2 linked regions of the Homo sapiens genome follow. The protein of the gene in region 2 purifies or fractionates together with the protein of the main gene of each other region. This does not show direct contact. Each region holds a gene or a part of one and is shown on either strand. Other genes may lie near its edges.

Evidence for each region. Proteins that work in one complex are often made in the same cells at the same time.
Region 1: the proteins of RPS6KA5 (region 2) and MAP1B purify together in Homo sapiens (affinity purification with mass spectrometry; one large-scale study listed by BioGRID and IntAct). This does not show direct contact.

Annotation. Positions count from the first base shown.
Region 1 is NC_000005.10:72,197,975-72,201,474, reverse strand, and holds part of MAP1B (microtubule-associated protein 1B), read right to left. Parts: coding exon 1,108-3,500; intron 1-1,107. UniProt on the Homo sapiens protein: Facilitates tyrosination of alpha-tubulin in neuronal microtubules. Phosphorylated MAP1B is required for proper microtubule dynamics and plays a role in the cytoskeletal changes that accompany neuronal differentiation and neurite extension.
Region 2 is NC_000014.9:91,050,356-91,054,471, reverse strand, and holds part of RPS6KA5 (ribosomal protein S6 kinase alpha-5), read left to right. Parts: intron 1-2,009; exon of another isoform or gene 2,010-2,149; intron 2,150-4,116. UniProt on the Homo sapiens protein: Serine/threonine-protein kinase that is required for the mitogen or stress-induced phosphorylation of the transcription factors CREB1 and ATF1 and for the regulation of the transcription factors RELA, STAT3 and ETV1/ER81, and that contributes to gene activation by histone phosphorylation and functions in the regulation of inflammatory genes.

The DNA of each region.
Region 1 (3,500 bases), on a different chromosome or scaffold from region 2:
TAAATCTGAGAATCATGACCAAAAACATGAATGATCAAAAATCAGGGATACCTGCTCTTGCCAAGTGGCATTTCATTTGCTTATTTATTTATTTTTGAGAGACAGGGTCTTGCTCTGTCACCCAGGCTTGGCATGCAGTGATACATACAATTCTGGCTCACTGCAGCCTTGATCTCTTGGGCTGAAGTGATCCTCCTGCCTCAGCCTCCCAAGTAGCTAAGACTATAAGCACGTGCCACCACACCCAGCTAATTAAAAAACATTTTTTTTTTTTTGTGGAGACAGGGTCTTGCTATGTTGCACAGGCTGGTCTCAACTTCCTGGGCTGAAGCTAACCTTCCATCTCAGCCTCCCAAAGTGCTGAAATTACAGGCATGAGGCCATGCATCTAGCTTCCCAGTGGAATTTTAATCTGAAATAGCATTGAGTCTCTACTAATGAGGCCATGGGGTAAGAGAAGGGTAAGAGCAGAGCCATCAATGTTTTTCTCTCAATTTTCACCGGACACTCACTGGTCAACTGAAATTATAGTATTTTTTGGCTGATAAGAAAATGGAACACTGCCTTTAATGAGGATTTATCTCCAACCTGGTGATGTTTTAAATAAAAATGTAAACATTTTTAATTTAAAAAAAATTTTTTTTAAAAAAGGACTCTAAATCTTGGGTCTAGACTGGTTGATCCAGTCTTGATGTGAAACCTCTGGTTCTCCTTAGGCCTTTGGGAGCTCCTGGCCTGTGTTACCCTGCTGGATTCTGAGGCCAGTATGGCTGAAACCAGTCTTCCAGAAGCACCTGAAAGACACATCCTTGGTTCTGAAGATTTAGAACAGGGCTGTAGTTGCTGTGTTCGAAAACGGCACAAAATCAGGAATCCCAGTGATGAATCACAGCTGCTTTGAACCATACACTGAGCTATTTCCAAGCCTTAAGGCCACACTGGACTGAGATATATACCTTTGGGCAGAGGAGAAGAGTACAGGGAAGGTAAAGCATCAATTGTGCTCCCTCATCTTCCCAGTACAAAGCCAAACAGGGAAATATAAAGGCTGTAAACGCAAGTAGAATGGTTGTGACATATATCCAATGCCCAGCCTTCTCAACCTACCTGCAGTGGCGGTCTTGGCCGACTTGGATGCAGAGGCATTGGCAGCATTCTTGGTCTCCTTGTCTTTCTCTTCCCCACGTGCAGCTTTGACCTCAGGAGTGGTGGTGGGTTTTGCTGCCTTTTCCACAGATTCTTTCTTCTTAGGAGAAGCCACCCTGGACACTTTATCCGAGGATTCTTTCAAGCCCGCTGGTTTTGGTGAAGCTGCCAAGGGCTTAGACTTCCCATCACTCTTTTTGACAGGTGAAGATGACTTGGTCTTTGTACCTGGCTTTTTGGTTTTGGTCTTCTCTTTCAGATCTTTCTTTAGAGCTTTGCCCAGGTTCTGCTCAATGGCCAAGGCCTCTGGGTCCACCATGGACACATCAGGGTGGCGTGGCGAAGGGCTGCGGTCTTGCACGGGAGCTGGAGGTGGGTCCATGTGTTTGTACGTGACAGTTTTGTCTGTGGGGATGGTTTCCGACTCGTCTTCAGAGTCGATATTGGCATCGGCCGTGATGGAGGGGCACTCTTCAGTCTCCGGGGGAACATCAGAGTCGGTCTGGGATGGGGCTGACTCGCTGACTGAGGTGGGAGGGGTTTCATCACACTGTCGGCCCTGTTGCTTTCCTCCTGGAGGCGGTGGGGCTCCCCCTGATTGAGTGAGGGGCTTTTCAGATTCTTCAGTGGGTTCTTCACTGGCAAACCACTCAAGAGGATTGGGATTAATGAAAGAGGGTGAAAGCTCTGTCTTGGGGTGCTTGTATTCACAAGAGGACACGAGGCATAAATCGACATCCTGACGGGCTTCTGAGGGGGACTTCTTTTCTGCAGTGTAGCATAGGTCTGAAGTCTCGTAGGAATATGTGGATGCCTGAGGGGTTCTAGTGATTTTCTCTGCAGTCTCGTAACAGTATGTGGAAGTATCAGGGGTTCGTGTTGTCTTTGTAGATGTCTCATAGGAATAACCTTCAGACTCAGGGAAACTGGTAATTTTCTCAGTGGTTTCATAAGAGTAGCTGGGGTCCCCAAGTGTGTGGCCACCATCCTCAGAGTCATCATAGCCATTGCTGATGTCATCCAGAAGCCTTCTAGACCTCTCAGTCTTTTCATAGCTGTAACCACTCACTTCGGGGGGGCTGGTGGTCTTTTCACTTATGTCATATGAGTACCCACCCTCTTCAGGGGTCCGTGTGGTCTTCTCAATAATTTCATAGGAATAGTCACCATCTTCAGGGGTCTTGGTAGTTTTCCCAATGGTCTCATAGGAGTAGCCACTGTCACTTGGAGATTTTGTGGTTCTCTCTATCTTCTCATAGTAATAGCCACCCACATCTGAGGTCCGGGTGGTCTTCTCATAAGACTCATAGTCATAATCTTCTTCATCTGGGGACCTGGTTGTTTCCTCAGGCTTTTGATAGGCATAGCTAAAGTCACCAGGTGTCTTCCCTCCACTGTCCTTCTCCAGGCCAGGTGTGGACAAATCTCTATTCAAGGCTAGATGGTGTTGCATTGTATCGAATAACACTGAGGCACGGAAGCCATAGGGCTCTGCGGATGCTGCATCTATTGGTGGAGAAGAGGAACTGTGGCAAGTTGCTGTTTTCTCTTTGACTGCAGAGGTAGAATCTGAAAAAGTAGGTGAATATAAAGGAGAGGACTCTCGTGGGGTGAGTGGAGAGATATCAGATTTTGGAGAGAGCTTCTCTCCTTCCAGACTTTGCACTTTTTCAGAGGTGAGTGAGGCATATAAGGACATATCTCTGGGAGGAGCAACATCGGATAGAGTATCTTCTTGGAGAGGAGAAGCGATCTGAGAAGGGGTATGAGCAGAAGAGGTGGACGGGGAGGCCTCTACCTGAGATACTGAGATGAGCTCAGAAAGATCATTATCTTGGGTGTAGGACGGCTCCTCCATAGGTGGTATCTTATGTGATAAACTGGAGTCCTGCATGTCAGAAGGACTGTAGTCCACTTCAGTTGGCCCATTTTCAGTGATGTGAAGCACGCCTGCACCCACTGTAGGGTGATCTGGAGACTGTCGACTGAAGTCCATAGCAAGGGATTGCTCAGGAGATTCTTGGCCAAATTCAATAGACATTGAGGACTGTTCAGATCTGTGATCTTGAACGGGTGTCCTGGACTTTGCAGTTTTAGGGGAGAAATCTGGTGGAGAAATTGACATCGGTCTTGGGCATTCTTCTTTAGATGGAGACATTTCTGTTTCCTGGAATGTGGTAGGTGTTTGCACAACAGACACTGAAAGGGAGTCATCTACTTCTGTGGAATGTGGGGAGCCAACCTCAGCATGCAGAGATGGAGACACATCATCTGTTGTTGGCTCTGGAAATGAGCTCGTAGCCACTGAGGCTGTGGACACTGAGGCCACACCCTCCATATGAGAGTACGTGTCT
Region 2 (4,116 bases):
AGAGACGAGGTTTCACCATGTTGGCCAGGCTGATCTTGAACTCCTGTCCTCAAGGGATCCACCTGCCTCAGCCTCCCAAAGTGTTGGGATTACAGGTGTGAGCCACCGCTCCTGGCCCTAAAAGTCTTTAATGTTGATGAAACCTTTTTTTTTTCTTTTTCATTTTATTCTTGTGTCTAAGAAATCATTGACTAATTCAAGATTATGAAGATTGATGTCTCTGTTTTCTTCTAAGAGTTTATGGCTTTAGCTGTTACATTTAGATCATTGATCCATTTTAAGGTAATTGCTGGATATCATGTGAGGTAGTGATTCAGACTCATTCTTCTGCATGTAAATATCCAATTGTTCCAGCACCATTAGCTGAAAAGACTATTTTTTTCTCCATTTTAATGTCTTGGCACCCTTATTGAAAATCAGTTGACTATAGATGTATGGGTTTATTTATTTTATACTCTCAGTTCTCTTCCAGTGATCTATATGTCTCTCCTTATAGCAGTACCATGCTGTCTTGACTACTACAGTTTTTTAGTAAGTTTTGAAATTGAGAAGTGTGAGTCTTATTCTTCAACATTGTTTTGGTTATTCTGGATTCCTTGTATTTCCATATGGATTCTAGGATCAGCTTGTTAGTGTCTGCAAAGAAGCCAACTCAGTGGCATTCTGATAGGGATCTCATTGAATTTTTAGTTAAACTTTGGCAGTGTTGCCATCTTAGCAATGTTAAGTCGTCTGATCTATGAACATGAGATGTCTTTCCATTTATTTAGGTTGTCTTCAATTACTTTCAACAACGTTTTTCCGTTTAAGGAGTATAAATTTGCACTTTTGTTAAATTTATTTCTAAGTATTTTATTATTTATTTATTTTTTGATGCTATAGTAAAAGGAACTAGTTTCTTACTTTTATTTTTGGATTGTTCATTCCAAGAGTATAGAGGTACAGTTTTTACCTTGTGTCCTGCAACCTTGGTGAACTAGTTTATTGGTTCTAATAGTTTAGTGGACACCTTAGGATTTTCTATTTATAAGATTGTGTTAGCCATGGATAGAGATAATTTTACTTCTTTCTTTCCAATCCAGATATCTTTTGTTTCAATTTCCTGCTTAATTGCCTTGGCCAGAACCTTCACTATGGTTCAATAGAACTTGCAAGAGCAGACATCCTTGTCTTATTCCTGATCCTAGGGTGAAAGCTTTAGTCTTCTACCACTGAGTATGGGGTTAGCTATGGGTTTTTCATAGATGTATTTTATCAAATTGAAGAATTTCACTTCTCCTCCTAGTTTGGGTGTTTTTTTAAATCATGAAAGAGTGCTGGATTTTGTCAGATGCTTTTTTCTGCATCTATTAAGATGACCATTTTTTTTGTTCTGTTCATATGGTGTATTACATTAATTAACTTTTGAATGTTAAGCCAACCTTGTATTCCTGGGATAAATCTTGTTTGTCATGGTATATAATCCTTTTTCTTTGTTGCTGGATTCAGTTTGCTTGTATTTTATTAAGGATTTGTATCTATATCCATAAGAAATCTTTGTAGTGTTCTTTTTTGGTGATACCTCTGTCTAGTCTCCCCAAAATATTCTTGATTGAGTTCTGTCACCAACTAAAGAGCTTTTTTTTTTTTTTTTTTTTTGGAGATGGAGTCTCGCTCTGTTCCCAGGCTGGAGTACAGTGACGCGAACTCTGCTCACTGCCAGCTCTGCCTCCTGGGTTCACGCCATTTCTCCTGCCTCAGCCTCCCAAGTAGCTGGGACTACAGGCACCTGCCACCACGCCCAGCTAACTTTTTTTTTTTTTTGTACTTTTAGTAGAGACGGGGTTTCATCGTGTTAGCCAGGACGGTCTCGATCTCCTGACCTCATGATCCATCCGCCTTGGCCTCCCAAAGTACTGGGATTACAGGCTTGAGCCACCGCGCTTGCCTAAAGATCTTATCTATTTGATTAGTGGTATCCATATTTACAATCTCTTAAGTAAATCTGTTTTTTTTTTTTTTTTTTTAAGAGACGAGTCTACTCTGTTGCCCAGGCTGGAGTGTGGTGCTGATCTCGGCTCACTATAACCTCCGCCTCCTGGGTTCAAGTGATTCTCCTGCCTCAGCCTCCCAAGTGGCTGGGATTACAGGCACCCACTACCATACCCAGGTAATTTTTTTTTTTTTTTTTTTTTTTTTTTTTTTTTAGTAGAGATGGGGTTTTGCCATGTTGGCCAGGCTGGTCTTGAACTCCTTACCTCAGATGATCCATCTGCCTGGGCCTCCCAAAGTGCTGGGATTACAGGCATGAGCCACTGCATCTGGCCTTAAGTAAAGATTTAACAGAGGTAGGGAGTGGACTGTAGTTCTAAGTCAGCCCCTAATTTGCTATATGACCTGGGATAAGTCATTTTGCCTTTCTGAGCCCAAGTTTTTTGATTCATAAAGTAAAGGTGATGGACTGAGTTATAATCAAAGTATTTACGAGCATTAAAGCTCTTCTGTGGCATTTCCATGGAAATTCTGGTATAGACAAAGTTAGTTCCTTGTCTTTTCCCGATCCTAGGGGGAAGGCTTTAGTCTTCTACCACTGAGTATGAAGTTAGCTGTGAGTTTTTCATAGATGTTCTTTCTCAGGTTGACAAAGTTCTCTTCTATTCCTAGTTGGTTTGGGTGAGCTTTTTCTTTTTTTTTTAAATCTTTCGGCCAGACATGGTGGCTCATGCCTGTAATCCCAGCACTTTGGGAGGCCGAGGCAGGTGGATCACCTGAGGTCAGGAGTTCGAGACCAGCCTGGCCAACATGGTGAAACCCCATCTCTAGTAAAAATACAAAAACTTAGCTGGGCACGGTGGCGGGCACCTGTAATCCCAGCTACTTGGAAGCTGAGGCAGGAGAATTGCTTGAACCTGGGAGGCGGAGGTTGCAGTGAGCTGCGATCGCACCATTGCATTCCAGCCTGGGCAACAACAGCAAAACTCTGTCTCAAAAAAATAAAAAAATAAAAGGATGTTTCATGATAAAAAGTCCAGAGTGGTGATTTACTTTATTGTTGTTGTATTTTAAAATTTCATTTTATTGAGACAGAATCTCACTATGTTGCCCAGGCTGGTCTTGAACTCCTGGGCTCAAGCAGTCTTCCCATCTCTGCCTCCCAAAGTGTGGAGATTACAGGTATGAGCCACCATTCCCGGCTAGTGATTTACTTTATTTATTTATTTATTTATTTATTTATTTATTTATTTATTTTTATTTAGACAGGGTCCCACTCTGTCGCTCAGGCTGGAGTGCAATGGCGTGATCTCAGCTCACTGCAACCACTGCCTCCTGGGTTCAAGTGATCCTCCCACCTCAGCCTCCCAAGTAGCTGGGACTACAAGTGTGTGCCACCACACACCGCCACGCTTAGCTTATTTTTGTATTTTTTGGTAGAGGTGGGGTTTCGCTATGTTGGCCAGGCTGGTCTGGAACTCCTGACCTCACGTGCTCCACCTGCCTCGACCTCCCAAATGGCTGGAATTACAGACATGAGCCACCACACCTGACCCTATGATTTACTTTAAAAGATCATCCTGTTTTACCAAAGGATTCATGTTGGATCTGTTGAAAAACAACAGTTCCCTGCTGCTTTTTGAATGTGGTTCCATTAATAATGATTTGATTTGTAATTAGCTTTTAAGAAACATAACTATTAGTTCCAATAAGATACTTGCTTTTTTTTTATTTTTATTTTTTTAAACAAACATAGCTTACAAAAGCAAGCCGGCTGGGCGCGGTGGCTCACGCCTGTAATCCCAGCACTTTGGGAGGCTGAGGCGGGTGTATCACCTGGGGTCGGGAGTTTGAGACCAGCCTGGCCAACATGGTGAAACCCTGTCTCTACTAAAAATACAAAAATTAGCCAGCCATGGTGGCAGATGCCTATAATCCCAGCTACTTGGGAGGCTTAGGCAAGAGAATTGCTTGAACCTGGGAGGCGGAAGTTGCAGTGAGCCGAGATTGTGCCACTGCACTCCAGCCTGAGGGACAGAGTCAGACTGTGCCAAAAACAAACAAACAAACAAAAAACAAGCCAATAAGATGCTTTGTTTTTGTTTTTGTTTTTGTTATTTTTGAAGATAAGGTCTTCTCTGTTGC